4 linked regions of the Homo sapiens genome follow. The protein of the gene in region 3 interacts with the protein of the main gene of each other region in a biochemical or structural test. Each region holds a gene or a part of one and is shown on either strand. Other genes may lie near its edges. The genes, in order: SP3, PIM1, ABCB1 and FBXO21.

Region 1 (6,126 bases), on a different chromosome or scaffold from region 3:
GAAGTCAGAAAGTCTGGAGTACATATTCTGACATCTACTAGCTGTGTGTTTTGGAGTGATACTCTGGCCCACTCAGCTTTAACTAGAAATGGAGATAATGCCTATTCCACCTATCTTACCATGTTATAAGAACTGAATAATGTTATAGTTACATGTGAGAAAGAAAAGTAAATAGTAGTCAGAAGCAGGACAGAGATGTCTGGCACCACCACTTCTGTTTAACATTAAGCTGTTGATTAAAAGTAGAGGCACAAGACTTGGAAATGAAGAGACAAACATTTTCTTCTTTGAGGACAATATGACTGTCTCCACAGAAAATCGTATAGGATCTACAGGCAAACTATTAGAACAGCAAAAGAATTATGTAAGATTATTAGACAAAATCATTTTACAAATATCAATAGCATTTATATACTCCAGCATTGATCAATTTAAACATTTAATTTTAAGAAGCCTATTCTCCAAAGCAACAACAAAAACATAAACTACATACGAATCAGTGCAATAAAGGATGTGTAAGGATTTTCAAAGAGACAATAATTTATTTTTAAAAACCATTAAAGACTTGAATTAATGGAGAGATACAGAATTATCATGGATAGAAAGATAACATTCTTTCCCCAAATTAATCTATAGATTCAATGTAATTCTAATAAAAAACCTTAACCCGATTGTTTAATTCTACATAATCATTTAATCCTAAAGTTCACAGAAAGAGCAAGGGGTCAAGAACAGTCAAAACCATTTTGAAATACAGAGAAGGGTGGGCAGAGGAGACTTCCTTACCGGATGTCAAGAATTTAGGATAAATAACAGAGAGGGCATTATAATCAGCAGGGAAACGTTGGACCATTCAATAAACTGCTAAGACAACTGATTATCCATATGGAAAATAATGGACTTTATGCCATAAACAAAAGTAATTTCAAAGTGAATTAACAAGATAAATAGAAAGGCAAAATCATAAAATTTTTAGACAAAAATTTTTATGACAGTAGGTAAAGAATTTCTTAAGACACAAAAGCCACAATTCAGATACAATAAAACTTCTGCAAAACAACACACACAAAACACCATAAACAAAATTAAAAGATAAGCCTTAGACTGAGAAAAGATACTATCAGCCTATATATCTCTAAAATATATCTTATATATAAAATAATATGTACCTGGGATTAATTAAGAATGTTTGAAGATCAATGCAAAAAATTGCAAATAACCCCAAAAAGCAAGTGGGCAAAGGATTCAAACAGGCAACTCCCATCAGAGGAAAATGGATTATGAACTTGTAAAAATATGCTCAACCTCACCAGAATATAGAAAAATTAGAATTAAAGTCATGAGTTATCATTTCACATCCATCAACCCATCATGTGCAGTAGCCTATATCCCCAGCCGTTGGATAAAATGAACAGCAGGGAAACAGTTAGTTGGACTTAAGCCTTTTTTTTTTTTTTTTTTTTTTTTGAGACGAAATCTTGCTCTGTCGCCCAGGCTGGAGTGCAGTGGTGCAATCTCGGCTCACTGCAACCTATGCCTCCTGCGTTCAAGCGATTCTCGTGCCTCAGCCTCCCGAGTAGCTGGGATTGCAGGCATGCGCCACCACCCCCAGCTAATTTTGTACTTTTCATCACCATGTTAGTCAGGCTGCTCTCGAACTGCTGACCTCAAGCAATCCGCTCGACTCAGCTTCCCAAAGTGCTGGGACCACAGGCATGAGCCACTGCCCCCGGCCAAGCCTTCTTTTCAATATTCAACTCAAGAGAGTGGTCTACTATGTGAGAAGACCCCTACAGTGAGAGACTATGAGGACTACCACACCTGGGCAGGGCTTGACTGAGAGATAGAAGGTGGAACCAGTGAGAAAAACATGCATTGTTTCTGCTACAGTTAACAAATATTTGGTTATCCCTACTGGTACCAATTTTTAAATATATCCATTGCTTAGTTTTTCAGGTCCCTTTTAAATTTCTTACTTATACTTGCTTTTCTTCCAGATGAATCTAGAATCATTTTGTCAAATCCCAAAACAAAATTTCATTGTTATTCATTGGAAAAAACATATCTGCCAAGGCAGGATTGGGAGGGTATGGAAAAAATGTGAACTCCTATAAATGGCTGGTAGGAATATAATTTGGTATGCATGTTATGGAGATCAATTTGGAAGTATCTGGTGAAACTGAAGATTAAGAATATCCTGTTGGCCAGTGATTCAAGTTCTAGATACATATCTCAAGAAATGCTCACATGTACACAAGGAAATATGTCAATTATTTCATTGCAGCATTGTTTATAAGTCAAAAATTGGAAATAACTGAGATGCTCATCAAGAAGAAAATGGATACATTGTGATAAACTTATTCAATGAACTACAGCATTTAAATGAATGATTTAGAGAAAGATGGTAGTGTGGATACATCTCAAAAACATGAGTGGTAAAACAAGTCCCAGAAGGTTTTGTACAGAATGATACCATTTATATGAAGTTTCAAAATCAGAAAAACAATCCTAGGTATGCATACATATAATAAGGATATAAAACCACTCATGGTATCATTCTGATAAACATCAAATTCAGAGCTGCAATTACTTATGTGGGTAAAGGGAGACAAATGAAATGAGACAGGGCTATACAGATTTCAGGCACAACTGTGATCATTCCTTTCTAAAAGAAAAAATATATAGGTAAAAATAAGACTATAAAAGTTGGGTGATAGATACTTAGGTATTTGTTACATTGTTTTCTGCATTTTTCTGTATTCTTGAAATGTTTCATAATAAAAAAGGCACAATACGAATACTAGCAGTTTCGTTAATAAATGTTGGCTGACAATTAGGTGGATCAAGGTGACTTAACAAGGTGAATTAACTCATTAATACAACAATAGTTGAAGACAACTATTTTCAAGTGTAGGAAGACTACTGATTCTTCCAGTGCTTACATTTACTAATACATAATATAATATGTGCCAGGCATTATGGAAAGTGGTTTACATGCATTAACTTATTTATCTCCATAATCACTCTATGAAGATGACGCTAGCATCATTCTCATTTTATAGTTAGAGAACAGGCTAAGAGTGGAAAGGTAAAGAGTGAAAGGTCACATAGGTGGTAAGCGGCAGAACTGGGAGACAAGCAAGCCCATGTGTGTCTAAGTCCCAAACCTATGCACTTAATCACTATATTATGCTATGAAAGGTTTCAACTTTACTAAATGAATAAAGATGGAAAAAAACACACAGAGTTACTAGGAGTAGAATTGAGAAAAATGCAATTAACACAACTTAAGAATTTTTAAAGGATCAGGGTGTGAGGAGGACTAAGTAATTGGGTATACATAATTAAAAGAAAGACCCAAACCTATTCTGAGTCCTAACACACAATGAAAATATACGTGACTTGGTGTGACATAGAAACACAGGCTAATGCTGGCAGAAAGTCAGTATTCCACAAGACCAACCACAGATAAAGATACAGCCATCTGTTAAGAGGGCGTCCTGAAACTGTAGAGGGACTTCTAAGGCTTTTAATCAGTTTTCTTGGACACATTCTACCAGTCTTTCAAGGCCCACCCTTTCTGATTCATCCAAGCTATATACTAAGTTCTGCCTTGTCTAAACCTGACTCACTTGGCAGGCAATAAACGTGACTTTTTGTTGGTATTTCCTAGGACGGCGGTCCCCAAACTTTTTGGCACCAGGGACTAGTTTTGAGGAAGACAATTTTTTCATGGATGGGGGTCGGGGGGTGGGGATGGTTGTAGGATGAAACTGCTCTACCTCAGATCATCAGACATTAGATTCTCTTAAGGAGGGCACTACCTAGATCCCTCGCATGCGGGGTTCACAACGGGGTTCGCACTCCTATGAGAATCTAATGTTGTGGCTCATCTGACAGGAGGCAGAGCTCAGGCAGGAATGCTCGCTTACCTCCTGCTGTATGGCCTGGTTCCTCACAGACCAGGGACCAGGACCAGTCTGTGGCCCAGGTGGTTCCTCACAGACCAGGGACCAGTACCGGTCTGTGGCCCAGGGGTTGGGGACCCTTTTCTATAGGATCAAGTCATCAACTCTATGGTGTTTTACGAGAGAATATACTGTACCTCAGTTGTCTTAGTTGGCATTATTTGGTAGCAAGTAACAGCCTTCTGACTTAAGAAAAAACTAAGTTGGGGAGTCTCTCTGTAAGGTTTTAAGGCTATCTTGTGGAACCCCAGGAGGATGAAATGCAGATAGTGAAATGCAAGACACTGGAACAAACACTGCCAAGTTATCAGGAATCAAGAAAGCCATTTTCTTTTTCTTCTGGGGTTGAATGTCATCTTTGCTTTCTCTGCCTCCCATGTATGTTCCAGATGTGACCTCCCAAGACATCAGTTTTCCAATTCCAAATTCTCAGGAGAAATCATCTAATTGGCTCAACTTTGACCAGATGTCCACTCCTTGTCTGATTTCTGAACAGCTCCTCACGGAAGGTGGCAGAAAGTAATGCTCAGAGAAGGGATGTAAGTCGGACAGATATCCTAAAAGGTCACTAAGCCAATACTTCCTGTATTTCGTTGTTGTCGATTAATCGGAGGCTTAGACTTTTTTTTGTGGGGGAAGGATGGAGGGGAGAAATAACTGCATTTCTCTGATGGCCTTTCCTAATCTTAAAAACCACTTCAGTGCTAGACTTTATCTTTCAGTCGCAATGAACCTGAAGATTCTTCGGCTGGTTTTTAGAAATGTTCAAATAGGATAGACTCTTACACAGGGGTGTAATTTCCTCAAGAAAATACACATTTAGGTGCTTCAGTCTTTTCTTCTTATTCCATCCTTTTCTGATAGGGCAGTCACTTCAGACACTTCATCCACTATCACTTTAGGTTCCAACTGTTCTTTTCACATTTTTGCATTAGAAATAAGACTTCTTCTCATTTTGGAAAAATCAATGTATGAACCATAGTCAAACAATGAAAATTCTAAAACACTTCACTACAGAAAAATGGAATCTCCAGAGTTAAGGGGGGAGGAAGGCATTGGAAGGAGGTTACCATTTGAATCTCTACCGTTAAGTCAGGCACTATGCTGAATGCTTATATTTTAATACAACAATCCTATCAACAGGGAGTACTATTGTTAGCCTCTTCATGGATGATGAAAATGAGGTTTTAAGGTAAGAAAACTACCAATATCACACATCTAGTAAGTAGCTTAGCATAGATTCAGAAGCAAGAGTTAAAAGGTGAAAAATGGGGAAAAGGACTGAAGGAGATAGGCCTTCTCAGGATATCATTCTTAACATCAAAAACTGTATCTTAAACGTATTTAATACAATGAAGTGGCATGAATCATGTTACATGACAATATACATGACACCTTTTTAAAAAATATATTCATATCATGAAGACTTTATAACATCAAATAAAAGCCAACATGGGAAAAAAAAAAACCTTGTATACCCTTTAGACTCCAGATTTGGCCAAGCGTGGTGGCTCACGCCTATAATCCCAACACTTTGGGAGGCAGAGGTGGAAGGATCACTTGAGCCCAGGAATTCAAGACCAGCCTAGGCAATATAGTGAGACCCCATCTCTACAAAACAAATTAAAATTAACTGAGCATGGTGGTGTGCACCTGTGGTCCAAGCTACTTAAGAGGCCGAAGTGGGGAGGATTGCTTGAGACCAGTAAGTGGAGTCTGCAGTAAGCCATGATTGCACCACTGCACTGTGTGACAGAGACAGACCCTGTCAAATATAGGGAAAAAACAAACAATAAACCCTGGACTAGAATGAATTTTTCTGGGGAGAAGGTGTAGGATTCCAAAAAGACTAGGAATCACTGACAAAAAAAATTCTTCTCTTTTGCAATTTGGCAGCCCCTCTTAAAAATTTTTCCACTCTGTCCCTCACAAAGTCCCCCATCACCCAACATACCACACTGTACCTTTGCAAACGCCATTTCTGCTGAGTTTCCCAGACTTCATGCAGAATTCTCCCTCTTCTAGGTTTCTACAGTACTTTGTTTCTGCCACTAATATATATATTTACATTATACGCAAATCTGTCTGAACAAGGCAAGGGGCCAATGTTGTTTCTTCAACACTAAATAAAATTATGAGGTGATTTCACAAAAATATC
Region 2 (6,947 bases), on a different chromosome or scaffold from region 3:
AGTTACCTGAAGAGACCCTCTGCCTGAAGAAAACCTGGCCCCTGATGATCTCTTCGTCATGCTCGAAAGGAATATCTCCACACACCATATCATACAGCAGGATCCCCAGGGACCAGACTGCCGCCGACCTGCCATGGTAGCGATGGTAGCGGATCCACTCTGGAGGGCTATACACTCGGGTCCCTGTGAGCCAAGGGAATAGAAGAGAAAACACACTTTTAGCAAAAACAAGCACAAAGAAGCTGGGTGGTATATATAACTCTTTCTTTTAAAAAAAAAAAAAATCCCTTCTCTCAGGAGCTAGGTGAACTCCATTTTTCCCTCTGGGCTAAGGAGAGTGGAGGCGCACCTTACGGCATCTCTCCAACCCAAAGCATTACCCACCTCTCTGCTAGCCCAAACCATAAACTGAAATTCTTTATGAACTGCTCCAAGAAACAAACACAGCTGGCCGCAGACCCAAAACTTGAGGCCCTGTGAGGCAGGACCGCCTGCGAAGGATGAAGGGATGCATGTCTGCACAACCAAGAAAGGTATCTCATAGACTATCCTTAAATTGCATTCACCACTGCCCAGGAGCCCGGGTGAGATTCTCATGGCCGACAGGATCCAAGCAAGGATGCTTGCACAACATCCTAAGTCAGGGTGCCCTTTGGGAGGCCTTCCTCCCCACCCGATGCAAGCAGGAGCAGACACCCACACCCTTTCCTCCCTAGACTGGAAAGGTAGACAGAGCTGCAGGGTTGGTTTCAGACCACGTGATTCCTGTTTACAAACTTTGGGTAGTAAAAGAAAAAGGAGGGGCCATGCCGCTGGTGCTCACCAGGGGGCAGCAAAGACTTGAAAGAAAAAACATGGGAGGACCCGGCCAGCCATTAACTGTTAAATACAAAAAATGCAGCCCAACCCAGCGTCCTCCAAGGGCAAATAAACATAAACCACAAGCCCGAGTCACAAGTTTTGAAAGGCTGTCGTTTGTTAGGTTAAGCCGCTCAGATGATGACCCACCCTCCGCAGCTTTGATCTCAGGCTCTCCATTCCTTCTTTTCTGAAAGAACCCGCTCCAAGCCCCTCCCTAGGATAGGTTTTCATCCTCTCTGCGGAGACACCCAACTAATTTTCAAACCAGCGACAGATCTTATTTCACAACATTCATTCCTGACTCTCTCTCCCCTTAACACTAAAGAAAAAAAAAAGCCACCAGTAATAATATAGTTCCTATTCCTTAACCTTCCCTAGATCAGAAAGGAGTTAAGAACTGCAGCTCTAAAACTACCATACAGAAAACTAACTCCCTTATAAAATAAAACAAAAATTACAAAACCGGCATCAATTTCCACCTCTTCCCCCGCCCCCATCCTTTTACTGGCGGGGAAACTGGGTCAGACTTTAGAAAAATCTGGGCTACCGCCGGTTGCCCACAACCTCTTATTCATCGGGAAAGCCTGGAACTAACTGAATTCCACTTGAAGAATAAAATCATGCCAGAAACATTACAGGTTCAGCTGGCTGAAAATCCCCGGCTTTACTACGCTGGGAGGCTCTCCTGCGTCCCACCCCGGCTAGCATCGAGCCAGGCGGCCCAATGACCTTTACAAAAGGCTGGCGCGGGAGACTGGCCGAGGCCTCCGGACTGGGCCGGGCCGGGCCGAGTCACCTGGGCAGCTCCCTCCCGGGCCTGGCTCACCATCGAAGTCCGTGTAGACGGTGTCCTTGAGCAGCGCCCCCGACCCGAAGTCGATGAGCTTGAGCTCGCCGCGATTGAGGTCGATAAGGATGTTTTCGTCCTTGATGTCGCGGTGGAGCACCCCGCAGTTGTGGCAGTGCCGCACGGCCTCCAGCACCTGCCAGAAGAAGCTGCGGGCCAGCTCCTCTTGCAGGGCTCCCCTTTCCGTGATGAAGTCGAAGAGATCTTGCACCGGCTCGGGCCTCTCCAGGATCAGGACGAAACTGTCGGGCCTCTCGAACCAGTCCAGGAGCCTAATGACGCCGGAGAAACCCGAGCTCACCTTCTTCAGCAGGACCACTTCCATGGGCACTCGAGTGCCATTAGGCTGCAGGGGCGAGGGGGCCGCGTTAGGGCGGGAGTCGGGGGCGCCCCTCACCCCACCCACTCATCCTGGGGGTCGCTCCTGCAGGGCACTCACCAGCTCTCCCCAGTCGGAAATCCGGTCCTTCTCCACGTGTTTGATGGCCACCTGGAAGCCCAGGGTCTCCGTCAGGTTCCCTCGTCCGGGCTAAAGCACGCCCGTGCGCCCCCCGCCCGGCGCGCCCTCCCCACCGCGGGGCGCCCACTCACCGGCAAGTTGTCGGAGACGCGGATGCCTGAGTAGACCGAGCCGAAGCCGCCGCTGCCCAGTAGCGGGCCCACCTGGTACTGCGACTCCAGGGGCTCCTTCTCCTTGCCTAGGAAAGGGGGAAGCACGGGGACTCAGTGCCGGCCCGCGAGCCGCCAGCTCCCCACCCAGGAGATCCCGCCGCCGCCCCGCATCCCCGGGCCGGAGGCGGGGGGTGCTCTCACCGGGCGCCAGCTTGGTGGCGTGCAGGTCGTTGCAGGGCGCGGCGCGCAGGTGGGCAAGCGAGTTGATTTTGGACAAGAGCATCCCAACCTCCAGGATGTCGGCGCAGGGACGGTGCCCAGAGGAGCTGCCGCAGGAGCCGGAGCCGGGGCTGTGCCGAAGGCTATGCCTGGGGCTGTGGCTGTGGCTGTGGCTGCGGGTGGCGTTGCGGCTGTGGCTGCGGCTGGCGCGGAAGGCCGAGGGCGAGTCGGAGGACAACTGAGGGCGCTGCCGGGACTGGCGGCGGGAGGGCGCGCCAGCGGGGTCGGGCAGCGCTGAGAACGGCGGGGTGAGCGGCTCGTGGGGCTCGTGCGGCAGCGCCGCGGGGCAGGAGGCTAGTGGTTGCTGCTGCTGCTGCTGCTGCTGCTGCTGCCGGTCCCGCCGCCGCCGCTGCCACCGACTCCTCTCGGGCCTCCTCAGCCACCGCGGCCGCTGCAGCAGACGCCCGGCTCGCCCCGCAGCCAGGAGTAAAGGGGAGGAGCGCGCCGGCGGGGAGGGCGCGCGGGGAGGGCGCGGCGGGCGGGGACGGGGCGGGGCCTCTCCGGGAGGCCAAGGCGGGGAGCAGGGCTGCCGGGCCGGCCGAGGGAGGAGAGGGGGTGGGGAAGCGGCGGGACTGGGCGACTCCCCTCGGCCCCCGCCCCGCGCGCTCTGTGGCCGCGCCCCGGCCCCGCCCCTGCCAGCGCTACTCCAGCCAACCAGAGGCCGATTGATCTGCATAACTCGGCGCGCCCCGCCCCCGCCCCGCCCAGCTCTCGCGGTCAGAATGGTCTCTACGCCGCCACGACGTGGCGGGAAGGAAAAGGCGCCAAAATGGAGGGGGAGGGGCGCGGGGCGTGAGGGGAGGCGGGAGCTGGGTGTAGGGCCGCGAGGGAGGAAGGATGGGGAGGGGCGTATCGATTCAAACCCAAACAATAACAAAGCCATCAAAGGCCGCCCGAGGCCGGCTCTGCGGCTCTCCGTTTCGCTGAGGGTTTTGGGTCAAGGGCTCGAGCCGGAGCATAACAAGTTGCGCGGAGACGACGGGCGTTAGTGTGTCAGGCGGGGAGGCCGGCGCGCCGGGTGTCGGACTGTGTGTGGGGATGCCGACGAGGGTGGTCTTTCTGTGTGACTCAGACCCGAGACCTCCAAGTCGGCTGGGGCGGGCTGACGTCGCGCTGTAGGCTGGGGGCGGATTCTGGGGGTTTGTGTGTTGGGGGGCGCGTCGGGGGCGAAGGATCCGCAGGACATGAGTCACGGAGGGAGTGGAGGAGTCAGGCCTGGAACAGAACTGGAGGCGGGAGCCCCGCTCCTGCGGGAAAGGGATGCAGCCCTCAGTCGTTCCGGCCGGCTAAAAGCTCAGCCACGGGATTCCCATTTTAGAAATGCAAAAGCACCAGCGAATCCTGATTTCTGGGAAGGGATGTGTGTCAAAGGGCCGGGTAAAGAGGAAATCACGAAGCAAATGTTAGTGTTGTGATGCCAGATGCTGCCTCAGCCCCTTCTGTGAGGGCGGAAAATTCCTCATCTAAAACGAGGGTGGGAGGGTGCGCTTGATTTAACCAGTTTTCACGTTGTAGTCACCTTTTCATCAGCCTGTTATTACCAGGCAGGCAATACCAGCAATTATTGGCCAACCCCAAGTCTTGTCTCAAAGGAAACCCCCCACCCTCTGCCTCCCTTGGAAATAACCCGGAACACTGACCAATTCCACTTGCATCCTTTGTCCTTTTAAACTTCATGTAGAGTTGATAACGACGTGTGAAATGAGTAAATTAAAATACTATATAATCCATAAATTGAATTGTCAGTGGCCTAAGTAATTGAAAGCTAACTACATTCTATTTTAATTTTTTGAAGTGCCTGCCATTTAAAGGAAAAATCAGGATCCCTATAGCTGTCATTAGTGAATTTAAATGTTTCCTTTGAAAGTTTTCTACAGTGCTTGCTTTATAAAAGTGCCCAGATCCTCCACAACTTTTATGAATTTATCCTACAAAATATTACATATTTTCCTTTTGTTTGTGTACTGTGGCCGAACTCATTCATTTTTTATGACTAGGAGAAAACCCAAGGGAACAAGAATTACTCCCTTTTTGCAGATAGGAAAATGAAACATAAATAGGATGGCACAGGGTCATACAGCAGCTAAGAGAGGAGATGAAATGACCCAAATTCACCTCCTGAGTATTCAAAGCTTTCCGCTTATCAGGGTCTAAAACTGTCCTTGGCACCGAACAAGACATCATTAAACATATGTGATTCCCACTTCCATCCCTTCTACCCTCCCTTTCCTTTCTCAAACCCTCAAATGTAGTCAAACAGAACTATTCCCACTTGTTCCCACTCGCCTAGCACTTTACAGACCCTTTGCCTTTGCGGAAGCAATCAACCTGTCCTGGGAGAGCCCTCTCTACCTCTCCACTTTTATTCAAAGCCTTTCCACTCTTTAGGAAACAATTGTAGTTCTACCACAGATTGATGAACAAACTCAGAGCATTGGTTCACTGTCCACTAATCTGACAGTTGGGATTTGTTTTTTTAAATCCTTTTTGTTCATTTACTTTTCCATTATACTTTGTCTTCCTATTCCTTGAATGCCCTTTTTTTTTTTTTTTTTGAGACGGAATCTCGCCCTGTTACCCAGGCTAGAGTGCAATGGCACTATCTCGGCTCACTGCAACCTCCATCTCCCGGGTTCAAACAATTGGTTCTCCTGCCTCAGCCTCCCAAGTAGCTGGGATTACAAGCGCCCGCCACCATGCCCAGCTAATTTTTGTATTTTTAGTAGAGACGGAGTTTCACCATGTTGGCCAGGCTGGTCTCGAACTCCTGACCTTATGATCCGCCTGCCTCGGCCTCCCAAAGTGCTGGGATTACAGGTGTGAACCACCATGCCCAGCCTCCTTGGATTACAGGTGTGAGCCACCATGCCCAGCCTCCCTGAATGCATACTTTATCCAACATTTGTTGATAAAAGAGAAGACTATAATGGATTCTAACAAAAAGGCCATAATTAAAGTCAATTTATACCAAATTTAAATGAATTAAGTGGGCTTCGGGAACATAAAAGTTGGGAGCAAGGGCTTTAAACTAAGTTAGCCTGGTTTCAATTCCGGGATCTGGCAGCTACTAGTTAGGCATTGGTCAAGTTACTTAACCTTATTAAGCTTTAGACAGAATGGAGATAATAACAGCATCTACCTCATAGGGTTGTTGTAAGGAGCAAATAAAACTCTTGTTTGTAAAGCATATAACCCAGTACAGAGTAAACTTCTAATAAATATTAGCAATGATGATGGCAATAATGTTGATCGTGGTTATGATGATGATGTTTTTTAAAACGGCCTTTTTTTTTTTTTTTTTTTTTTTGAGACGGAGTCTCGCTCTGTCTCCCAGGCTGGAGTACAGTGGCGCAATCTTGGCTCACTGCAAGCTCTGCCTCCCAGGTTCACGCCATTCTCCTGCCTCAGCCTCCCGAGTAGCTGGGACTACAGGCGCCTGCCACCACGCCTGGCTAATTTTTTATATTTTTAGTAGAGACGGGGTTTCACCGTGTTAGCCATGGTGGTCCCGATCTCCTGACCTTGTGATCCACCTGCCTTGGCCTCCCAGAGTGCTGGGATTACAGGCGTGAGCCACCGCGCCCAGCCCAAACGGTCTTACACCTAGAAGGTACCAAAGGTAAACTACTGGATTAATAGTTCGATTTTTAACCATTTGGGGAGAGATGTGATTTAAAATAGTTGTTTCTAGTAGATCTTTTAGGCCTTTTAGAAAAAAAAATATGTATCAACTTCAACCTTTTTCACTTTTTCTAGGTCTTTGAAGGACTAAATATTTAATTAGAGCTAAAGTGATTAACATTTAATATATCTACTTTGTATAGTGGGGGCTTCACAGCTGGAAGTTACAAAACATGGACCTTGCTTGGCAAACAGCTTTGATTTACTTAAAACTGCTTTAAAAGATAATTAGTAAACATTCAGATGTGTTGTGGGTCAAAAGTTACTCCTCGAGAGTAGGGAACTTGATGTTTTGATTTATCGAAATATAGTCTTAATAAAATTAGCACTATTTGTGCTATCTCAAAGAATCTAACAAAGAATCAGAAAAATCACCCTAATAATTAAATGACAAGTGCTTTTGGAAGGATAAAAGGCCACAATTATGCTAACAGTTCTCTGGGAAGAGGAGCATTTATTAATATTAATTTGAACAATATCCAAATTAATCCTTAGGTGGTTTTCATATTCTGCCTGATATGGGTTTAATCAAGTCATTGTCAAAGGAATGACTTCATCCAGGGACTATATGCTTATGCAAAAAAAAAAAACAAAAAAACAATGACTTCAGCAAGTTCTGTAGTCACGAAATTTTTTTAAAAAACAAGTTTAGAAGAAAGTTTGAAAG
Region 3 (7,952 bases):
ATACAATTTATACTAAACACACATCAAATCTTACCTTATTTTCTTCTTACAAAAACCCTAGGAATATGCTGTTTTTGTCTTTATTTGAATGACACAGAAATCAAGGTTTTTGAGCAGTGGAGTATTTCTTCAAATGACACAGAAATCAAGTCTTTTGAGCAGTGGAGTATTTCTTCAAAGCCACACAGCTAGTAAGTCATGAAGCTGGAATTCCAAGAGTTGCCACTTCATTTTCTTCTTTCCCTTTATCTTACTCAGTTGTCTTCTCTCCTCTTAATTTTGTCATTCATTTAAAAACATTTCTTGTGCTATTATGGTAGATTTATTTTAATAGGGGGCAGTGACTTACTCAGAGAGATGATTCTCTAATGGAGTTTTAAAGATCTTAGAAGTTGATAGAGGAGGCTGGGCGTGGTGGCTCATGCCTATAATCCCAGCACTTTGGGAGGCTGAGGTGGGTGGATCACTTGAGGCCAGAAGTTCAAGATCAGCCTAGTCAATGTGGTGAAACCCCATTTCTACTAAAATTACAAAAATTAGCCTGGTGTGCTGGTGCACTCCCATAATCCCAGCTACTCAGGAGGCTGAGGCATGAGAATTGCTGGAACCCAGGAGGCGGAGGTTGCAGTGCGCCTGGATTATTAACACTACACTCCAGCCTGGGAGACAGAGTAATACTCCATCTCAATAAAAAGAAGTTGATAAGGGAGATAGTTCATGGCAACGGATCTTTGAAGGCACGCTAATGATAACTTAGGCATTTAGCCTACTAGTGTAATTTCCATAAATCTGCCTCTGATGTCATACTCTCAGCACCTAATATTTTCTACAAACATTTATTGAAACTTTATTTTGTATAAGTCTCTGTCCAGTTTGAATATTTAAAAAATTCATAATCATATGAAACATTAATAATAAATACAAAATGAGAGATGCCGATACTGAAAAGTAGGATTGCGGAGTGGTAGAAAATATTTCTGGCTGTAGTAGATGGGGAAGTGTTCAAAGAGGAGTATAATTCAGGTTTCCATTTGCCATCGACTTATCACATGGCTAACTCACTAAGCGACTTAATTAAAATTAAATTAATTTATCATCATCTGATCACCATTTCACACAACTCATGTCTGTTGCTGTATTGGCTAAATGATGGCAAGACAAACGACCTCTGAAAATGATCCTATTGACCTTCGGAATCTGGATTTTTTTTTCAATGCAGGTGTCCATAGAAGCAATCTGATGTAATCCAACATGAGTTCAAGCACAGTCATTTAATATCCCCTATCAAGTACAGTCATTTAATATCCCCTATCATCACATGTCCTTCATACATAAAAATCATTACATGTGAAAGGGTGGAGAGTGTGTGGATCCCTTATTATTGTGTTATTGTAACACAATAACAATATTGTGTTATTATTGTTAACACAAGTGAGTCATATGTCTTGCTCTTTGGACTGAGTGGAAACTTGTATTCTTTCTCTGCCTCAGGTCAATTAACTTCATTGAGGTGAGTTGCATTCCTTCTTTAAGCATGTTGAACCTTCAATCTGGACTCAGATGGGCTAAATAGAGGAGCTAGGAAAAATACAGAAAATAAATTATTAGAGAGATCAGAGAAAGATACATAAGATTTACAATAAAAGAATTATGAGAAAAACATCCAAAAGAATTAAAAACCATAGGAGAAGGAAAAATAGGTGAACAGCTTTTTAATTTCTATAAATGTGTTGTTAATACTCATAATAAAGGACTCAGAGCTGGGATATGAGAATAATAGGTCAAACGTATATGGATACATAGATGTGACTACATACATGAGTTGCAAAGAATGCTAAGGAGGGCAAAAAGAGATTGAGAAGAGGGCATTATTACTAATATATAGCAATGTTGAATGTTTAGGGTGTTTCAGGCACTGTACAAATCTTTTAAATACACAAATCACTTAATCTTGCCATAACATTAGAAGATACTATCTACTCTTTACCAAAAAGGTAACTGTGGGATAGCAGAGTTAAGTAACCCGTTCAAACCTATGCATAATAATCAGCAGAGATGGTCCTTATCTAAGTTTTTCTGCCTTTGAAGTCCAAATAGTTTAATGCAGCCAGGTACTAAAGAAGAAAACTTTTGTAAATTAGTTTAGTTTAATGATTTACATGTGGAAAAGCACAGAGTGAAAAGCACATATCATCTGAGAAGCCCAGTGAGTTTGGCTGAAATGGAGTGAACATGTACATGTTGAGGGTGAGGAAGATGATTAGAGAGAAGTGATGTGTTGTGGTTCTTAAAAGCTAAGAGGAAACTGTTAGATATGATATAGTCTGTGGCAGGGAGCCATTGCAGGTTTTCCAAGATGGACTCATAAGGAGAAAACACTTCGTGGGACTGGAAAAGGCAGTGAAGTGGTGTGTCCTATGATAATGTACTACAGTGTAGGATAGTGGTTAAGAGTACAGTTATGAGAGAGGGACTACTGGTTAGCACCTTACCTGCTGTGTGACTGGGCAAATAATGCAAACCTCAGTGTCTTTTATTGTAATATGGGAGTAACAAAAATAGTAACTACTTCATAGGATTCTTGTAAAGATTAAATGACTTAATTTCTTTGAAGTGCTTGGCAGTTCCTGATAAATGACCAGTAGTTAATAAATGTTAGTTGTTATTATTATCATTATATATTATTACTCCCATAGATACATATAGAACAGACTGCAGCAGAGAGGCAAATCTTTAATGTTGTCAGAGTATAGACAAGTTGGTGAAATGGCTACATGAGAGCGGAGGACAAGAAGGTGCAGATTGTGGCAGTCACTTCAAATGGAAATATCACCGCTTGAATGAAGGTATATGAGTGTCAACTTGCAAGGGGACCAGGTAGGTTTCATCAGAAATTAAGGAAGCTTAAGGAGAACAGCCAAGTTCAGCTTGACAGAAGTGGTGGTGGCACAAATGCAAGACTGGTGTCTTTCAAGAAACCAAGGACTGTTGAAAGTAGCAAGAGCTAGTTTGTTTTAGGTCCATCATGTTTTATATTCACACTTTCATGTCAGTGGAGCAAAGAAATGGAATACAATATAATAGAATGGTAGAATCTTATTTTTAAAATCTGTGTTATTCTGATCTTTAACTTACTTATATCTTTGATAGAGATCTTTACCTGATGCTCAAGATTGTAGAAATAGTATAATCAACATAACAGTATAGCACTGTATTTATATCCTGCACTGTTTAGGGAGGGTTTAAGGCCATTCAAAAGGATACATAAAATACAACAAGATTACATAAATGAAAGGTGAGATAAAGCAACAAAGCAAAACAAAAGTGAAAACAGAGATCATAGGCACAAATAAGATTAAAAACGCATGTAATGAAGATGAAAGCTTTTACATTTACCCCAGATGGACCACAGGGTTGTTGTTAAGCCTTTAAACAGTGAACAATGCTGTACACTTGCATATGCAATTAGAACATGTGGAAAAAATAGTGGCCTGTTAGAAGCCTAATTAACAATTTGTGAAAAAAAAAAAAAAAAAAAAAAAAAGAGGCCGAGCTGTAGCTCACGCCTGTAATCCCTGCACTTTGGGAGGCCGAGGCGGGCGGATCACGAGGTCAGGAGATCAAGACCATCCTGGCTAACACAGTGAAACCCAGTCTCTACGAAAAATACAAAAAATTAGCCGGGCGTGGTGGCGGGAGCCTGTAGTCCCAGCTACCTGGGAGGCTGAGGCAGGAGAATGGTGTGAACCCGGGAGGCGGAGCTTGCAGTGAGCCGAGATCCTGCCACTGCACTCCAGCCTGGGCGACAAAGCAAGACTCCGTCTCAAAAAAGAAAAAAGAAAGAAAAACAAAAGAAAACTTCATTGTATTGTAAGGCCAAGAACAAAATATATCAAGATAAGGAAAATTTGTAGTCAAGAATAGAAAAAAATTATGGCTTTGAAGTATGAGTTATTTAAAGAAAGTGGAAACATCCTCAGACTATGCAGTAAAAAACAAAGTGATTTTCTTCTTCTAAACTTATGCAATAAACTGATAGGTAATATGTGAAAGTCATAGAATGTAGACTAGAGGATACAACAAACCTATTTCCTCTATGTTCATAAGAAGTAAGAAAAGCTCTGATGTGAGTTAGCATTGCTTTACAATTTTGAATTGTGCAGATTGCACGTACTTTTCCTCAGTTTGAAGTAAATAGTGGACAGGAAAAAATATTAAATGTTGGCAGTAAATATGGAAGGAAATTACAACTAATGTAATATGCTAAAACATGCTATGTTTATTTTACTAATTTGAATTAAAATGTAAGAATTTAAAATGCCCTGGAAAAACACGGGCATTGATCTGACGTCTGAAGTTTTAAAATATTACACACTTTGAAATAGCATTTGTACCTTGAAATACCTGTCTCTATATATTTTTTAAAACTTCCTTTTTCTTTCATTCCATTTATCATCAAATAAAGGATGAACAGATGTAACTCAGAAACTGTCAAGCATGCTGAAGAAAGACCACTGCAGAAAAATTTCTCCTAGCCTTTTCAAAGGTGTTAGGAAGCAGAAAGGTGATACAGAATTGGAGAGGTCGGAGTTTTTGTATTAACTGTATTAAATGCGAATCCCGAGAAAATTTCCCTTAACTACGTCCTGTAGTTATATGGATATGAAGACTTATGTGAACTTTGAAAGACGTGTCTACATAAGTTGAAATGTCCCCAATGATTCAGCTGATGCGCGTTTCTCTACTTGCCCTTTCTAGAGAGGTGCAACGGAAGCCAGAACATTCCTCCTGGAAATTCAACCTGTTTCGCAGTTTCTCGAGGAATCAGCATTCAGTCAATCCGGGCCGGGAGCAGTCATCTGTGGTGAGGCTGATTGGCTGGGCAGGAACAGCGCCGGGGCGTGGGCTGAGCACAGCCGCTTCGCTCTCTTTGCCACAGGAAGCCTGAGCTCATTCGAGTAGCGGCTCTTCCAAGCTCAAAGAAGCAGAGGCCGCTGTTCGTTTCCTTTAGGTCTTTCCACTAAAGTCGGAGTATCTTCTTCCAAAATTTCACGTCTTGGTGGCCGTTCCAAGGAGCGCGAGGTAGGGGCACGCAAAGCTGGGAGCTACTATGGGACAGTTCCCAAGTGTCAGGCTTTCAGATTTCCTGAACTTGGTCTTCACGGGAGAAGGGCTTCTTGAGGCGTGGATAGTGTGAAGTCCTCTGGCAAGTCCATGGGGACCAAGTGGGGTTAGATCTAGACTCAGGAGCTCCTGGAGCAGCGCCCAAACCGTAGTGGCACTGGACCATGTTGCCCGGAGCGCGCACAGCCCGCGCGGTGCGGGGACCTGCTCTCTGAGCCCGCGGGCGGTGGGTGGGAGGAAGCATCGTCCGCGGCGACTGGAACCGGGAGGGAGAATCGCACTGGCGGCGGGCAAAGTCCAGAACGCGCTGCCAGACCCCCAACTCTGCCTTCGTGGAGATGCTGGAGACCCCGCGCACAGGAAAGCCCCTGCAGTGCCCATCGCGGCCAGAGCAGCTGGGGCATCAACGGCGGGCGCTCCCTCTTACTGCTCTCTGGCTTCGACGGGGGACTAGAGGTTAGTCTCACCTCCAGCGCGCCTGAGGCTCATGCATTTGGCTAATGAGCTGCGGTTTCTCTTCAGGTCGGAATGGATCTTGAAGGGGACCGCAATGGAGGAGCAAAGAAGAAGAACTTTTTTAAACTGAACAATAAAAGGTAACTAGCTTGTTTCATTTTCATAGTTTACATAGTTGCGAGATTTGAGTAATTTATTTCTAGCCTCCAGCTCTGAAATAAATGACATGTTGTTGTTTTTAATTATTTTTAAGAAACGCAAGCTAGCCTTTGGAATCAATATCCCTGCTTAGAGCAGAAGTTTGTTGGCTGAGTGGAGCACAGCATATGCATTTTCCCTGTCTTTTTTGTTCTTTCTTTTAATGATACATAATATTTTACATATTTATGAAATGGGGTACATGGAAGCGTTTTTTACATGCCCGGAATGTGTAATGATCAAGTCCGGGTATTTGAAGGATACATCACCTTAGGTATATTTCATTTCTATGTGTTGATAACATTTTAAGTCTTCTAGCTACTTTGAAATATACAATATATTGCTAACTGTAGTCACCCTCGTCTGCTATCGAACATTGGAACTTATTTGTCCTATCCAACCGTTCTTAGTCATTCACCAACCTCTTTTCATTTCACCTTTTTACCCTTCCCGGCCTCTTTCCCTTAGTCTTGGTGTGCCTCTTTCTCAGCTTTCCTGCCCCAGACAGGCGGATGCTCATATGTGTTTCTGTCTTATGAACTTCTGCTTTTCAAGTGGTGTTGGTCGCCCACACGTGAGCCATATGCTGCTGGTGATCTGCTCTGTGGTCCAGGCTCTTGCTTCCGGTAAATGGCTATGTAAACATCGCGTTTGTGGCCTGGCTGATGAGACAGAAGGTCAAAAGTACATTTAGGTTGTTAACTGGCAATAAATATCTGTATATAATATTGGTAATGTAATCATATAGGGAAAATAATTATTTAAAGTAAATTTTGATCATGGTGCTCTGCCTTTATAGAATATTTAAAACTTCACTAAATAGATTCATTGTTAGTAGTAAATTGTAAAATAGACTAGTAAGTTTAATAATATTAGAAACTGTAATGTAAATTATAAGATAAATTAGTAAACACATTAATATTATAAGAAACCAAGCTTTTCAGTGTAAGAGAAAAAATACAAATGTGGAAATCAAATACATTTTTAAAAATAATGTTAAGTTTGAATTAGAAATTTCAATATGAATTCATAATCTTTTAATAGTTCATTTTCAGTCCACTGAAAGGGACAGTAACAATGAGCACTGTTAGTACCAGATCTGGGTTTCTAAATACCATTCCTCCCTAAAAGAAATGAACCCCTCAGTAGCTAATTTCAGCCAGGTCTGGGACAGGAAAAATAGAAAGTGAGCCTGGAGTATCTTGTGGTACCTGAAAATAAGGAAGTGGAGTTTAATGGAGTAGTCGAAAGCACACTGAAGCTGTCTGGAAGATGCTTCCAATGGCCAACTCTGGGACAATTTGAGCATCAAAGAACATCGTAACTGTAACTGATTTTGAGATACTGAATGCTACTGCTGAATGCTTAATATTCTGAGAGAAGGGAAACTGAAAGAAAGTGTGAGAGGTAGAGAAAATAAAGCAATGATCTTTAGAGAAAAATTCCAGCTATCATTTTGGAACTTCCATTGTTATAATAGATTCAGGCAAGGATTGTCAATGAACTCTAAACTATCAGAAAAATGTTGTATCTAAGAATTTTCTTCAGAATGTTTACTAATTGGAAGGAGAATATGCTTCTCCAATTAAAGATTTTGCAGTTAGCACCTTAACCGAGTGATCAGACCTGGTATCTCTCACGGTAGAATGGACTGTAGTAAATGACTCATCACTTGGATTTTGAGTAAACAACATCACCTAGCAAATATTAATATATCTGCAAAAACATTTAGTCTGTATACAATTAAACTTGTAGACTGGGGCTGTCCAATGGATATATCATGTGAGCCACATTTGTAATTTAAAATTTTCTAGTAGCAACAGTAAAAAATGAAAATAAAAAGATAAAGTAATTTTGTAAATATATTTTATAGAACTCAATATGTCCAAAAGATTGGATTTTCTACATGTAATCAAAATGATTAATAAGATAGTTTACATTCTCTTTTATGCTAAATCTCCTGTTTGATGTGTATTTTACATTTATTGCACCTCCCATTTGTATTCAGTTTGATACAGGTATACCCAAGATGTGGGACATTCTGTAAGACAGCTGTTCTTGTTCCTTTACAAAAGTCAATGTTAAAAAAATAAAAGGAGGACTTCTAGATTAATAGAGACTAAAGAGATATAACTACCAAACGTAGTGTGTGAACATTACAAAACAAAACAAAA
Region 4 (7,027 bases), on a different chromosome or scaffold from region 3:
CTGCTCTTGCTAGGATATGACACTGGTTGAGACCAAGAGTTGATCTTCACACCCAGAGCCACAGCCTCACTCCACCTCTCCACAACCCTGTGACCCCGGGAAAGTCACTTCACTAAGCCTGAGTCCTGTTCGGGAAGTGGCAGTGATTAAAAGCTTTTTTTTTTTTTCCACCTAATCCTCCCAATTTGAAGATCAAGAAATTACTGACCTTCAAATGGGAAGGATTAAGTGAAACAAAAAACCTGATGGACTTGGCACAGTGACCAGCAGAGAATAGTGTTCAGTAAATGTTGAGGTCCAGCACGTCGCAGTCTGAAAGGCAAGATAATAACATGGTGCATAAAACTGGAGTTTTCACAATACTTTGACAGGCTCACAATGCATCAGCAAATAGGACAGTGATTACTCATGATTTGATAAGCTAAGAAAGGAATTCAGAGGTAAAAACGCCAGCTAGTCTGACCGATCTGGGCCTAGAGTCCAGGTTGCTGTAACGCACTAAGCAGGCTGTAATCCAGGACTCAGTAAATTGGAAGGAGAACCTTGTCAGAAATTCTATGCTAAGGGCTGTAAACGTAATGGGTGCGAAATAATTGTATGTCTGTGTCTTTTTAAACGTGGAGTTTTTTCCACAGAGGCACTGTGTGCAGTAGAGGCGGTAATAGTGGAGTCAGACAGGGCTGCTACTCTGTGCTACTAGTTTAACCTCTGCATAGATGTAGTTTCTCCTGCTGCCTGCTGAATACCAAATACCATGATGAGTTAAGACCACTGAAGTGACCAGCAGGATTTTAGAACTCTGATATACGTGGCTCCCTCCTTCTAGTGTAGCTTCATAAACTCAACGAATGCATCCCTTTGGTGCCCACTCTGTGACCTTTTCCATCTTTTCCAGCACTGAGGCAGTTGTGTCAGACATCCTCTTCGTCTCGATTAAAGCAATTTAGCATTTTTTTTTCCCCTCTGAATTCGTGAGTGGCAAGTGAAAATCATTCCTGTGTATTGAAAAAACGTGGATTCTCACATTTCCCATGCCGACCAAGCATGCTAGGTGCTGTTAGAGCCCACCTCATCCAGAGTGCCCTAGGTGGTGGGCCCTCACCTGCGTCCCCAGCGCTTATCCCAGCACACTGGTTTCCAAAGAACTCCTCAGGTTGACACTGGTTGAATTGGGGTATCCTGGGCCAGCTGCCAGTGTTACAGTAGAGCCCAACCCTGGGCATCTGCAGTGCCGATTTGGTGGCGGTCCATCAGAGGATGGTCCAGAGACCTGGACCGGTTCGATCAGGGCATAGCCACCCCTTTTGGTCCTTTGCTTTGTTAGGTTACGTAGGTAGGTCTAAATCCCTCGCCGCAAAAAAGAAAAGGCCTAGCTGAAAATATTATCTTTTAGTCTTTCTGTCTTGTTTTGAAGGTGCTTGACATCCTCCAGCACATCCAAACCCTAGACCCGGGGCAGCACGGGGCGGTGGGCTACCTGGTGCAGCACACTCTAGAGCACATTGAGCGCAAAAAGGAGGAGGTGGGCGTAGAGGTGAAGCTGCGCTCCGATGAGAAGCACAGAGATGTCTGCTACTCCATCGGGCTCATTATGAAGCATAAGAGGTGAGTGCCCGGGATCATCTGTCCTGCAGTGTCCGTTCCAGAGGGGCTGCAGAGACACACATGCACCTGGTGAGCCCCCAGGACACAGTGGAGGAGGAGCTGACTGGATCACTTATCCCCCGAGTGCGCACCGCGGGGAAGACAGAAAGCTGAACCTCTTTTTTTTTCTTTTTGAACCGTGTCTTTGACCTTTGTGTTTTTTAAGCAGCAGCTTACTTTCCTGAGAGATCTTCTAGTGTTTTTAGTGGCCTTTAGATGTTTGACCCTTCTCTGTGTGTGAGAACATGGAAGTAACTTTGTAAGACACGAGTTTTTTCTCTCATTTCCTCATTGTTCTTATATCTTGTCACTTAATCTCAGTCTCTTCAAATCCGATAGGCACTTGGTCTATTTACCAGGCAAAATTAAACTGTATCCAAAGTGATTGGAGCAGTTTACATCCCACCAGCAGGCTGGGAGCCTGGAGTTCCTATTCTCGCCTGGTGCTATTGCCAGACCTTTAAAAGTGTACTTACCTGAGAAAGGGCAAATAGTGTTTCACTGTGGTTTTAATTTCTGTTTCCTGGGTTACTAAACACGTTAAGGTTCTTTTCATATATTTACTGGCTATCCAAGTTCCAAATTTCCTTTTATTAAGCGCCTATTCAAACATTTCATTTTTCTTTTCTTTTTTTCTTTTTTTTTTTTTCTTTGGAGACAGTCTGGGTCTGTTGCCCAGGCTGGAGTGCAGTGTTGTATCTCAGCTCACCTGCAACCTCTGCCTCCCAGTTCAAGCGACTCTCATGCCTCAGCCTCCCAGGTAGCTGGGACTACAGGCGCACACCACCACGCCTGGCTAATTTTTTGTGTTTTAGTAAAGACAGGGTTTCACCATGTTGGCCAGGCACGTCACTAACTCCTGACCTCAAGTGATCTGCCGTCTCAGGCTCCCAAAGTACTAGGATTACAGGCGTGAGCCACCACACCCAGCCCATTTCGTGTATTTTTTTCTATTGAGTTATTAGTCCTCCCTAATATGATATGTAGTTGTTCTTCTGTGTATCAGTATCTACATGACGATAAGTTGCAAATATCTTTTCCCAGTTTTTGGCTGGTGGTTTTCATTCTTTATTGCATTTTTTTAAACTTTTAAATGGAAATTTGCAAAGATTTATAAGAGAGAAAGGACTATAAGGAACCAGGTGGTGTTCCTGTCATCCAGCCTCAACAGCTGCCATACGGGGTGAATCTTACTGTCCCCTGCACCCTCCAGACCTTCCTCCCTGGGTTAATTGACGCAAGTGCCAGATGCCATTTCACCTGTAGCGATTTCAGTATGTACCTCTAAAAGGCAGGGGTGCTCTCTCCTTCTCTGTCTTTTCATATTTAACATCTTATTATCACATCTAGAAAACCCCAGTTCCTTAACTTCATGCAGTATCTAATGAGAGTTCCTATTTCCCCAGTTGTCTCATATTTTTACATGTTTGGATCAGGATTTGTTAGTCTCTTGGTTTTAGTGATGTCAGATTGGTTAGTCTTTTCCTTTACGGCTGTATTTTTAGTGCCTTGTTTTAACAAACCTTCCCTATCTTGAGTCATGAAGATACTTTCTATTTTAGAAGTTCTGCATTTAACACCTGAGTCTTTGCTGTACTGAGAATTGAATTTGGTGTGCTGTTGTCAGGCCAGGTCCCCATACCTTTTTCTTTTGGGTAACCAGTTGTCATCTAATCACTTTTTGTTGAAAAGTTTATTCTTTTCCAGATAAAGTGCTATGTTGATAATAAGAGGTGTTTATAAAAGGGGTTAGGGGTGTCCTGAAAAATGATTCACCGTGGAGTAAAGCAGGTAACTGAGGATGTGAGCTGAGAAGCCACGCGGTTGTCTGGAGGTTGTTGCGGCCGGGTCTGCAGGGACTGACTGCTCCTCCTGTGTTAACTAGGTATGGCTATAACTGTGTGATCTACGGCTGGGACCCCACCTGCATGATGGGACACGAGTGGATCCGGAACATGAACGTCCACAGCCTGCCGCACGGCCACCACCAGCCTTTCTATAACGTGCTGGTGGAGGACGGCTCCTGTCGATACGCAGCCCAAGGTAAGCGGCGGGTTCCGCTTGTGCCAGTGGCCCCGCGGGCGTGTTTTCAGCGCACGTTTGAGCCCTCGGGTAGGTACTGTGGGCGTGGGCCATCGGTTCCTTCAGAGGCGGCCGACGCCCCATGGCCGGCCTCCTTCGGGCCCACAGTCAGCTAAACGTGGCTGGGTCTGCACAGGTGCCGCCCTGGCGAGGGGTCAGTAGTCATACCCGCCCTCCCCCAGGGCCTCCGCTCCCACAGCCCGGACATCTGATTGGCCACTGTCTATGCCAATCAAATTCCTGTAAGTCCTGCCTCCTGGACCCTGCCCTCGGCTCCTCCCAGACTAGAAGGGAACCGGATGAACACCTGGGGGCCCCCTAGTGCTCCCTGGCCTCCCAAGGCTGTGGCTGCCGGCTGACGCCGGAGATGCCCTCGTGTGGCCACCTGTGGGAACTGCAGCCCACTGCGCCGGCCCTGGGAGCACCTGAGAGCCCGCAAGTGTACAGTAAGGTTGGGTAGGCGTCTGGGCCACTGCCGCCCCGGCAGGTGCCAGCCCAGGGCAAGGCTGAGGTGGAGACTGACAGAGCCTGTGGAAGCTGGTAAGAGACAAGAATGCCTTCAGTGTGAGTCTCCCTTCTCTTTGTTCCTGTTGAATTTCACCTCTACTTAATAGGATGAATTCAGTGTATGTCTGTCAAAGCATTCACATTGATTAATTAATAATTCACATTTATTAATAAAAATGAATGTGAATGCTAATGTAGTGCCATTCTGTGACGGACATCATTCTAATGTATATTAACTCCATTTGAGAAACATCATCATCATCATTTTCTAGGTGAGGAAACTGAGGCACAGGGAAGCCATTGAGATTTTAACTTAGAGAACACGATTTGAAGCCAGGCAGCTTGACAGAGCCTCCTCTTCATCCATCATGCTGTACCTGCTCATGTCTGAGTTTTGACCTAACTCAATATTATGTTCTGATAAATCCAATAATCAAAATATGGGATGTATAAAAACCTCAGAACTTTCTGAAAGGCTGGAGATTGCCAGGTGAGGTGTCTCACACCTATAATCCCAGCACTTCGAGAGGGTGAGGCAGGAGGATTGCTTGAGCTCAGGAGTTGGAGACCAGCCTGGGCAACACAGCAAGACCTCATCTCTGCAATTTAAAAATTAACCAGGCAGAGTCATGTGCACCTGTGTTCCCAGCTACAACACAGCAAGACCCCATCTCTACAAAAAAATTTAAAAATTAGCCAGGCAGAGTAGTGTACACCTGTGGTCCCAGCTATTCAGGAAGCTGGGTTGGGAGGATCACTTGAGCCTGGGAAGTGAAGGCTACAGTGTGCTCTGATTGTGTTGCTGCACTCCAGTCTGGGTGACAGAGTGAGACCTCATCTTAAAATAAAAGGCTGGAAAATAATGATTATTGTCAGTTAATCAGAAACTGAAAGGATCCCCTGGAACAGCAGCATCAAGATAAATGTTTGTTGAAACTGCAGGTCGCTTGCCCTGTCTCAGTGTGATGGGGATGGTGTAAGGGGTTTCTGTGCTCCCTGTGGCAGATGGAGGCACCAACGGTAATGTTATTTAACTTTTGAAGCTGTGTCGAATATAAACAATCTCTAAAAATCAACACATGATTTGGACATTATTGACTGATTCACTGGGCCACTGGTGCCAGCACAAGTCACCTGGTAAACGCTTGATAGCCTACAACAAATGGCGTTCACAAGAATAAATGAGCATTTTCTTTTCAACAACACCGTGGGCCAGTGTCTATGGCTTTACCACATGGCATCATTATTCACTGTTTAGGGTTGGTCTTAAGTATTTGGTTTTAGGGGTTGTGATATGTTCACTTCAGAAGTTGATCTCTAATCATATCTAGGTAAACATGCAATGTAAGGTTTAGTCATAAAATTGTCATTACTGAAAAAATTAATATCTGCTTGTTGGTTTTACCATCTGTTAAATTGAGATGGAACTAAATGATGGGTAATGTTAGCAAATTGGCTTCTTGAATTTAAAACGTAGAACTTCAAAGCTGTTCCTACACTATGAGAGTTCCCGTCTTCTGCCGGCGGCTCCATCAGCGCTGTGTCAGCAAGCGCTTCCTGAGGGACTCGGAGTCCTGGGCCAAGGGGCAGATCTCCCCCAGCATGCCTGATACGTGGCTGTCTTCAGGGTCCTCCCTCTCCAGGGGACTCTCCTCTAGGCCTTCATCTCCTTCCCCCTTGGGGTGTCTGTGGATGTGCTGGTGACTCCCAAAGCCGTGTTCTCTGGGCTCTTCTCTGGGCTCCGTGCCCACCTCTGTAACAGCCCCCGGGCATGTGTGCTTGGAGGGCTCTCAGGGGTCTTCTCTCCAACATTGTTACCCCGACTCACTGAACCCATTGTTTTAACTCGATTATCTCTGTAAAGAAAGAAAAAACATGAACTCATTGTGCCCCCATACCCCCCTTGCTCCTGCCTGCCCCATCTCACTAGTGACACCACGTGGGGGCCGTGTCTTGCTCTTCTCCCCTTGCCCTCGCGATACATCTGTCTACACACCCACTGCTGTCTCCTCATGTGTCTCCCATTTCCATTCTGGTGGTCTCTGCTTGCCTACTTCCTAACTGGCACCTGCCTCCCGGCCTGTCCCCAACCGGGCATTTTCCTTAGCAACAGCAAGAGGATCTTCCTAGCGTGTCCCTGGACCGGGCCACTTGCTGCTTGAATTGACTGACCATCAGGAGTTTCTCATCGGCAGGCAGTGCAGAATGCTTTACCAGGCCCTAGGGATCTGGCCTTCCCCTTACAGCCCCAGCACGGTTCCCACGCCTGACATACTCCAGCCCACTTCCGTTCATCTTCTTTGAAGTCATCATTCTTGCTCGCACGTGGAACAGTTAAAAGAATACATCAAATACCCCCATTTACCCTCTAGTCAATTCAACAGTAAATGATTCCCATATTTGCTTTATCTATAGAGATTTTACTGTTTTCCTGCACCATTTGAAAGAATATTGCAGACATGACCTAATTATGTCTGAGTATAAGGAGATTCCTCTGCATAACCAAATTACATTATCACACCTAGTAACAATTATTTTATAATATCTAATAGTTTTCAAATTTCTCAATTGTCACAAAATAACTTTATGCCTATTTTTGGCTTGTTTCTTAAAATCAGTATCCAACCAGAATTCATTCACTGCATTTGGTTGTTTTTTTTCTCTTTAGTCTCTCTTATTAAAGACAGTTCCTCATTCTTCATTTTTTTTCCCCCCTTTTTCATATGACTTTGACTTTTTGAAGAATCCAGACTGGTTGTCTTGTAAATTTTTTTTTTTTTTTGAGACAGGGTGC

What was found.
Region 1: the proteins of ABCB1 (region 3) and SP3 form a complex in vitro, tested with the Homo sapiens proteins (one study listed by BioGRID).
Region 2: the proteins of ABCB1 (region 3) and PIM1 form a complex in vitro, tested with the Homo sapiens proteins (one study listed by BioGRID).
Region 4: of the proteins of ABCB1 (region 3) and FBXO21, one has a biochemical effect on the other in vitro, tested with the Homo sapiens proteins (one study listed by BioGRID).

The regions. Positions count from the first base shown.
Region 1 is NC_000002.12:173,900,253-173,906,378, forward strand, and holds the end of SP3 (transcription factor Sp3), read right to left. Parts: 3' UTR 523-6,126; downstream 1-522. UniProt on the Homo sapiens protein: Transcriptional factor that can act as an activator or repressor depending on isoform and/or post-translational modifications. Binds to GT and GC boxes promoter elements. Competes with SP1 for the GC-box promoters.
Region 2 is NC_000006.12:37,166,232-37,173,178, reverse strand, and holds the start of PIM1 (serine/threonine-protein kinase pim-1), read right to left. Parts: upstream 3,028-6,947; 5' UTR 2,877-3,027; coding exon of another isoform or gene 2,604-2,876; coding exon 2,522-2,603; intron 2,407-2,521; coding exon 2,300-2,406; intron 2,199-2,299; coding exon 2,148-2,198; intron 2,055-2,147; coding exon 1,688-2,054; intron 184-1,687; coding exon 7-183; intron 1-6. UniProt on the Homo sapiens protein: Proto-oncogene with serine/threonine kinase activity involved in cell survival and cell proliferation and thus providing a selective advantage in tumorigenesis.
Region 3 is NC_000007.14:87,597,885-87,605,836, reverse strand, and holds the start of ABCB1 (ATP-dependent translocase ABCB1), read left to right. Parts: upstream 1-4,952; 5' UTR 4,953-5,011; coding exon of another isoform or gene 5,012-5,082; intron 5,083-5,646; coding exon of another isoform or gene 5,647-5,652; coding exon 5,653-5,720; intron 5,721-7,952. UniProt on the Homo sapiens protein: Translocates drugs and phospholipids across the membrane. Catalyzes the flop of phospholipids from the cytoplasmic to the exoplasmic leaflet of the apical membrane.
Region 4 is NC_000012.12:117,152,451-117,159,477, reverse strand, and holds part of FBXO21 (F-box only protein 21), read left to right. Parts: intron 1-1,393; coding exon of another isoform or gene 1,394-1,414; coding exon 1,415-1,605; intron 1,606-3,529; coding exon 3,530-3,687; intron 3,688-7,027. UniProt on the Homo sapiens protein: Substrate-recognition component of the SCF (SKP1-CUL1-F-box protein)-type E3 ubiquitin ligase complex.